Linked DNA regions of Homo sapiens: region 1 is linked to region 2. A link means that fine-mapping ties the variant in region 2 to the expression of a gene that starts in the linked region. Tissue or cell type: whole blood. Region 2 holds a variant in brackets; the other region holds the start of a gene. All regions are shown on one strand. Distances are between the middles of the regions.

The links. PIP is the estimated chance that this variant, and not a neighbour inherited with it, causes the effect.
Region 1: ZC3H7A starts here. The variant in region 2 is fine-mapped to the expression of ZC3H7A in whole blood (TOPMed, PIP above 0.99).

The regions. Positions count from the first base shown.
Region 1 is chr16:11,795,563-11,798,474 of GRCh38, forward strand. It overlaps ZC3H7A (zinc finger CCCH-type containing 7A), which reads right to left and starts at 1,696. Exons shown (of 23, transcript NM_014153.4): 1 at 1,562-1,696. RefSeq lists silencers at 928-1,087, 1,570-1,979 and an enhancer at 1,395-1,932.
Region 2 is chr16:11,726,786-11,729,697 of GRCh38, forward strand. All of the region lies in intron 4 of TXNDC11 (thioredoxin domain containing 11), which reads right to left. Among named protein-coding and RNA genes, the nearest start is that of TXNDC11, 15 kb to the right of the region's middle. RefSeq lists an enhancer at 1,744-1,803. The variant A/T (reference allele first, on the strand shown) is at 1,358.

The sequences.
Region 1 (2,912 bases), 69 kb after region 2:
GTAGCTGGGATTACAGGCGCCTGCCACCACGCCTGGCTGATTTTTGTATTTTTACTAGAGACGGGGTTTCTCCATGTTGGCCAGGCTGGTCTCGGAATTCCTGACCTCAGGTGATCCACACACCTCGGCCTCCCAAAGTGCTGGGATTACAGACGTTGAGCCACCCCGCCCGGCCCGTATATGTCATTTTAAATTTCCAAATAGCCACACTAAAAAAAGAGAAAAAGAAAAGCAGTGAGATTAACTTTTGTTTTTTTATTTGTTTGTTTTGAGACAGTGTCCCAGGCTGGAGCACAAAGGCACAATCTCAGCTCACCGAAGCCTCAATCTCCTGGGCTCAAGGGATTCTCCCACCCCAGCCTTCCGAGTAGCAGATTCTCCCACCTCAGCTTCCCGAGTAGCTGACTACCGGCGTGCGCCACCACGCCCAGTTAATTTTTTGTATTTTTTGTAGAGACAGGGGTCTCACTATGTTGCTGAGGCTGGTCTTGAACTCCTGCACTCAAACGATCCTCCTGCCTCAGCCTCCCAAAGTTTTGGGATGACAGGCATGAGCCACTGCATCCTGCCAAGATTAATTTTAATGATCTATTTTCGTTAATCCAATTTGTCCCAAACATGACCATCTCAACATGCATTTAAGTATAAAAGATTACCAATGACATCTTTTACTTTCTTTCTCATCCGAAGTTTTTAAAATCAGATGTACGTTTCACAGCTGGGACCGCAACTGAAACTGGCCCCATTTCGTGGGCTCCATCGTCCCAAACGGCGGGGGGTCAGTGGCCACCGTACTGGGCATGGCAAGGTCCTTCGTGGTTCAATACCGAACACGGGCAACTCCTTTTCATCCCTAGACAGGTGGGGACAGGAAAATACCCAACTCCTGGCAAATCCACCCAGTCCCGACTCAGGCTCGACCTCGGAGGCCCCGGCCGGGCCTCAGGCGGCCCCACCCCTTTGCTGCCCAGGCCTGACCGGAAGCCCCGCTAATGGGAACTGACAGGTCCCGGTCCCGGTCCTCCCGGGCGGCGCCCCCGCCTCCGCGGACCCCAAGGCCTCTCCCCGCCCGGCCCAGGGCTGCACCCCGCGCGAAAAAATAAAAAAATCAGAAAGGGGGGTAAAAAAGACGGATGAGCCCCAAATTAATGCGCCAAGCTCTCCGCCGGCATCCTTCCCGCCCCCAAGCCCAAGACGCTGAATCGGGATCCCCGCGATCACCAGAGCAGACAGAAATAACCAAAAAAAAAATTTTTTTTTAGTGAAATCACCAAAAAGGAGACATTTTGCCGAGGGAATGGCAGGCAGAAGTGGGTCACGTTATTCTCGGTGGGGGAAGGGGACGGCGCGCCCACCCGTCCCTCCGCGCGCACAGGCCCCGGCCCGGCTCCTCTCAGGGTCCTCTCGGGTCCGCGGGCCCCGGACCCCGCCGCCCCTCCCCCGCCCCGCCCGCCGTCCGTTAACGGCCGCGCGCGAGCACGAGGCGGCGGCGCGCGCGGGGGGGGCGGGGGCGCGGGCGCGCGCGTTTCCTTCATGCCCGGCGGCGTCCCCCTACCCCTACCTGTGGGGACGACGCGCCGGCCGGCGGCAGAAGGCAGGCGGAGGCGGGCGGCGGCAGGCGGGCAGCGGTGGCGGCGGCGGCGGCGGGGCCTGGGTGCTCGCTCGCAGCTCTCCCTCGGTTAGCGGCGGCGGCAGCGGCTCGGTTGCGCCCGCGGCGGCGCCCTCTAGCGGCGGGAGGCCGCGCTTGCCGCCCGGGAGACGCCGCCATTGGCTGCGCCGGAGCTACGGGCTGGGGGCGGTGGCGCCACGTCTGACTGGGGGCAGGGACCTGGGCGCGCCGTTCAATCCGGAGCCCCGGCGTCGACGCGCGGCCCACTGGGTGAGCCAATGGGAAGGCCACGTTGCGCACTGGACGCGCTCGGACTCAAGACTGATTAACCAGCACCGGGGTTTTCTGGGGCCTCGCCTGGGCCGCGGCCTGAGCAGAAGCGCTAGGAGGTAGAACAGCGTCCAGCGGGGAGAGGAGCTAGAGTCGGCATCGGGAAGCCCACCCTGGAGCCTGCTTAGCTTGACGAGCCCTCAACCGGGGCGCCCTGCTCTGCGAAGAGTAACCCTGCATCCTCAGAACAACCGTGATTGTCTTCATTCCTACATATGAGGAACGGAGGCGCGGAGCCCCACGGCAGCCGGGGATCCAAAGACAGCCTCCCTCCAGTTCCATCTGCCGGCTCTTGGAAGGCCTGGATCCCTGTCCTTCAGGGCCCAGCCCAAATGCCGCCTCGTCCATCTGCATTTTACGGCCAGGTGCCCCGCTGCGGGCACGGCTTCTTGTAAAATGCTCAGCTCAGCAGTGGGCGAGGCAGGGTCCCTGCCCCATGGGATGGAGGGCGGAGATCAGGACCCACAAGAGCCCAAAGAAGACCATTTTGGTCGGTGAAGACCAAAGAAATTCAAGCAGGAGGATGTGACAGGAGCTTTTGGGAAAGCCTCTGAGGAGGTGACAGCCATGCAACCGTGTTCGGGGAAGTGTGCCGCAGGCAGAGGGGAAATGAGTGCAAAAGCCCTGAAGCTGGAGTTCGGTGTCTGGATAACAGGAAAGGCCTGCATAGCTGATGTGTGCCAGAGGGGAGAAAGATCTGTGACACAGGGGGGCCGCCATGTTTAATTTGGAGTTTTGTGTGGAAGGGGGTCATTCATTGAGTCTGAATTGGGAGTTCCGAGGTCTCATTTATATTTTAGAAAGTTCTCTCCTGCTACTATGCAGAGATTGGGCTGTAGGAGAGACAAGAGGGGAAGTGGGGACTCTAGCTACAGTAGCTCTTCCAGGGGTCTGGGTGACGTAGATTTACAAACCAGAGTATTAGCTCAGGCTGCCATGACAAAATACCCCAGACCAGGCAGCTTAGACAACA
Region 2 (2,912 bases):
GGCTCACACCTGTAATCCTAGCATTTTGGGAGGCTAAGGTGGGCTGATCACTTGAGGCTAGGAGTTCAAGACCAGCCTGGCCAAATGGTGAAACCCCATCTCTACTAAAAATACAAAAACAGCCAGGCGTGGAGGCACATGCCTGTAATCCCAGCTACTGAGGAGGCTGAGGCACGAGAATCACCTGAACCCAGGAGGTGGAGGTTGCGGTGAGACGAGATTGCGCCACTGCACTCCAGCCTGGGAGACAGAGCGAGACTCTGTCTCAAAAACAAGTTTATGTCAATAGAGAATATTATGTATTTCAGGACATCATCACTTCCCAAGTAATGAATGCTAACTATATAATTTTATAATGGTCCAAAATGCTCACAAATATCTAGATTAGAGACAAATTTATAATTAATCAATTTTTTTTCTTTTTTTTTCCTTCCTTAAAATCCAGATCCTACGCAAGAAATTTTTTTTTAAAACAAGGAGGAAATTATCACACATACTCCTACAAGATGTTACAAACATATCTAACAGACACTAAGTCAAGCAAAAAAAAACCAATCCTTCATTATGTCAAACTTCAGAAGTGCCATGAAAACATTAATTATTTTGACCCAATTTTGATATACTTAAATTTAAACACACTTGATACTGAAATCCATATTGATAAAAAATATAAACTGAGATAAGGCTCTTGACCAAAACAAGTATCTTTCATAGTAAGATGTCTTTAAATTAGCAAGTTCCTTCACATATTTAAACTGTATAGGGTTTTTTTGTTTGTGTTTTTTGGAAAAAGTGAGTAGTTTGAGTAAAAAGTTGAGTATCAGAGACAGCTCTACTGATGACACTCTAACTCACCCCTAGCTATAATTTCCACCCGCCCCCCCCACCCCACCATAACCTTCCACCATTCTCTAGTCAAGGCACTGTTTAATTTTCATCTTCTCTCTACTGCCACCATTATAAGCAGATAAACTTTTAACTATTAAATGAATGCCTTTGAGAGCCCCATGATAAAAGACATGTTTTCTTCCTCTTAAGGCCTTAATTGGGAAAACTCAATTCTTCAGAGCAGTAGTTCTTAATGGGGGAATTTTGCCCCCTGAGGGGTATTTGGCAAGGTCTGCAGATATTTTTGGTTGTCACAAATGAGGGGAGAAAAGGGTGCTACCAACATCTAGTGGGTGGAGGCCAGGGATATTGCTAAATATCCTACAAACCACAGGACAGCCCCCCAAAACACAGAATTATCTGACCTCCAACGTCAACTGCGCCAAGGTTGAGAAACCCTAACTTAGCAGAATATTCAAAAGCTTACTGTGTTCTACTCCAGGGACTCCAAAAATTCCTTAACTTTCCT[A/T]ATTATTCAACCATCAAAACCATGACAGTGGTTTCATTTCTGGATCTAGAATTCTGTCTCTATCTTATAGGCAGTGTGTGTGAAACTGATACATTTTCTAGGCTGTGCTATTTGGTATATTTTGCAAGACAAATGGTTTCACAAGTGTCACGATGGGCTTGACTAGTGAGTTGTTTCACAATTAATAAAGTACTATCTATCTCTTGCCAATGAGACAATCTCATCTCAGTGACAAGCCCAGCAAAAGATGATACTAACCCGATAAAAGCCACAGCTTTTGGGAGGAAGTCATTTTAAAGGCTGACAGAAGTGATCTAGGGACCCCATCTTGGTAGCACTCTTGTGGTTCCCATTTTAAAGGCAGTCCAGTTTAATCACTGTTGTACATCACTCTAAGTGGGCTGCCAAAAAACTTAATGTAATGTTTTAAATGTCATCAGCAGTAATGTCGTCAGTAGATTAGTGAGTCTAACATGAACTCCACACCAATACTTGGAGGATAGTCTTTTAAAGTACTGCTGGGCTGGGCATGATGGCTCACACCTGTAATCCCAGCACTTTGGGAGGCTGAGGCAGAACGATCGCTTGAGCCGAGTTCATGCCACCACACTCCAGCCTGGGTGACAGAGTGAAACCCTATCTCAAAAAAATAAAATAATCCAGCCTGGCCAACATGGTGAAACCCCATCTCTACTGAAAATACAAAAAATTAGCCAGGTATGATGGTGCATGCCTGTAATCCCAGCTACTTAGGAGGCTGAGGCAGAAGAATCACTTGAACCTGAGAGATGGAGATTGCAGCGAGCCAAGATCATGCCACTGCACTCCAGCCTGGGTAACAGAGTGAGACCATCTCTAAATCAATCAATCAATCAATCAATCAATCAATGGAGTACTGCTAAAAGCAGGTCTGTCTGACTCCTGATTCTTCACCATTTTGCTGTGCCATCCCGAGTGGCTCTGGCTGTAACCCACTGAAGAACCATGTCAAAACCCACTTACCACAACTTTACTGTTAGAAGGAATCTCAAGGATACCCTGGCCCAGGCCCCTGATGCCCAGGAAGTGAGTAACCCGCCCCAAATCACAAACCCAGTGAGTGTGCCAAAGGGATCAGGCCCCAGTACCCTGCCTCTTAATATAGCCCTCACCCACCAGCCTGCCCAGGGAAAATGAGAGGCAGGCCTCTGAGGTGCACAGACATCCATCTGCTATCTATGTAATTAAGGAATATTTACTCTGATGCATAGCTAAGAACTAAAAGCAGAATAACTAGATATACTGCTGCTTGGGGAATCTCTGCTAATAGTTAACACATATGTAGTTTCCAACATGACTGAATAAAGCTATACTGATGTTCTGGTGAAAAAATGTGTATCCAATCTATACAGAATATAAATAGTGCGAACAGTAAAATTCAACTAGCCACAATTCTAAACTGTCAGGAAGGTCTGGATATACATGGTTTTTTAATCTCTGTCAGGTATTTATGGTCTTGATTTTGTTGTACCTAAGTATCATTTTACTTGTACTCAAGTATGATTTTACACTTGCT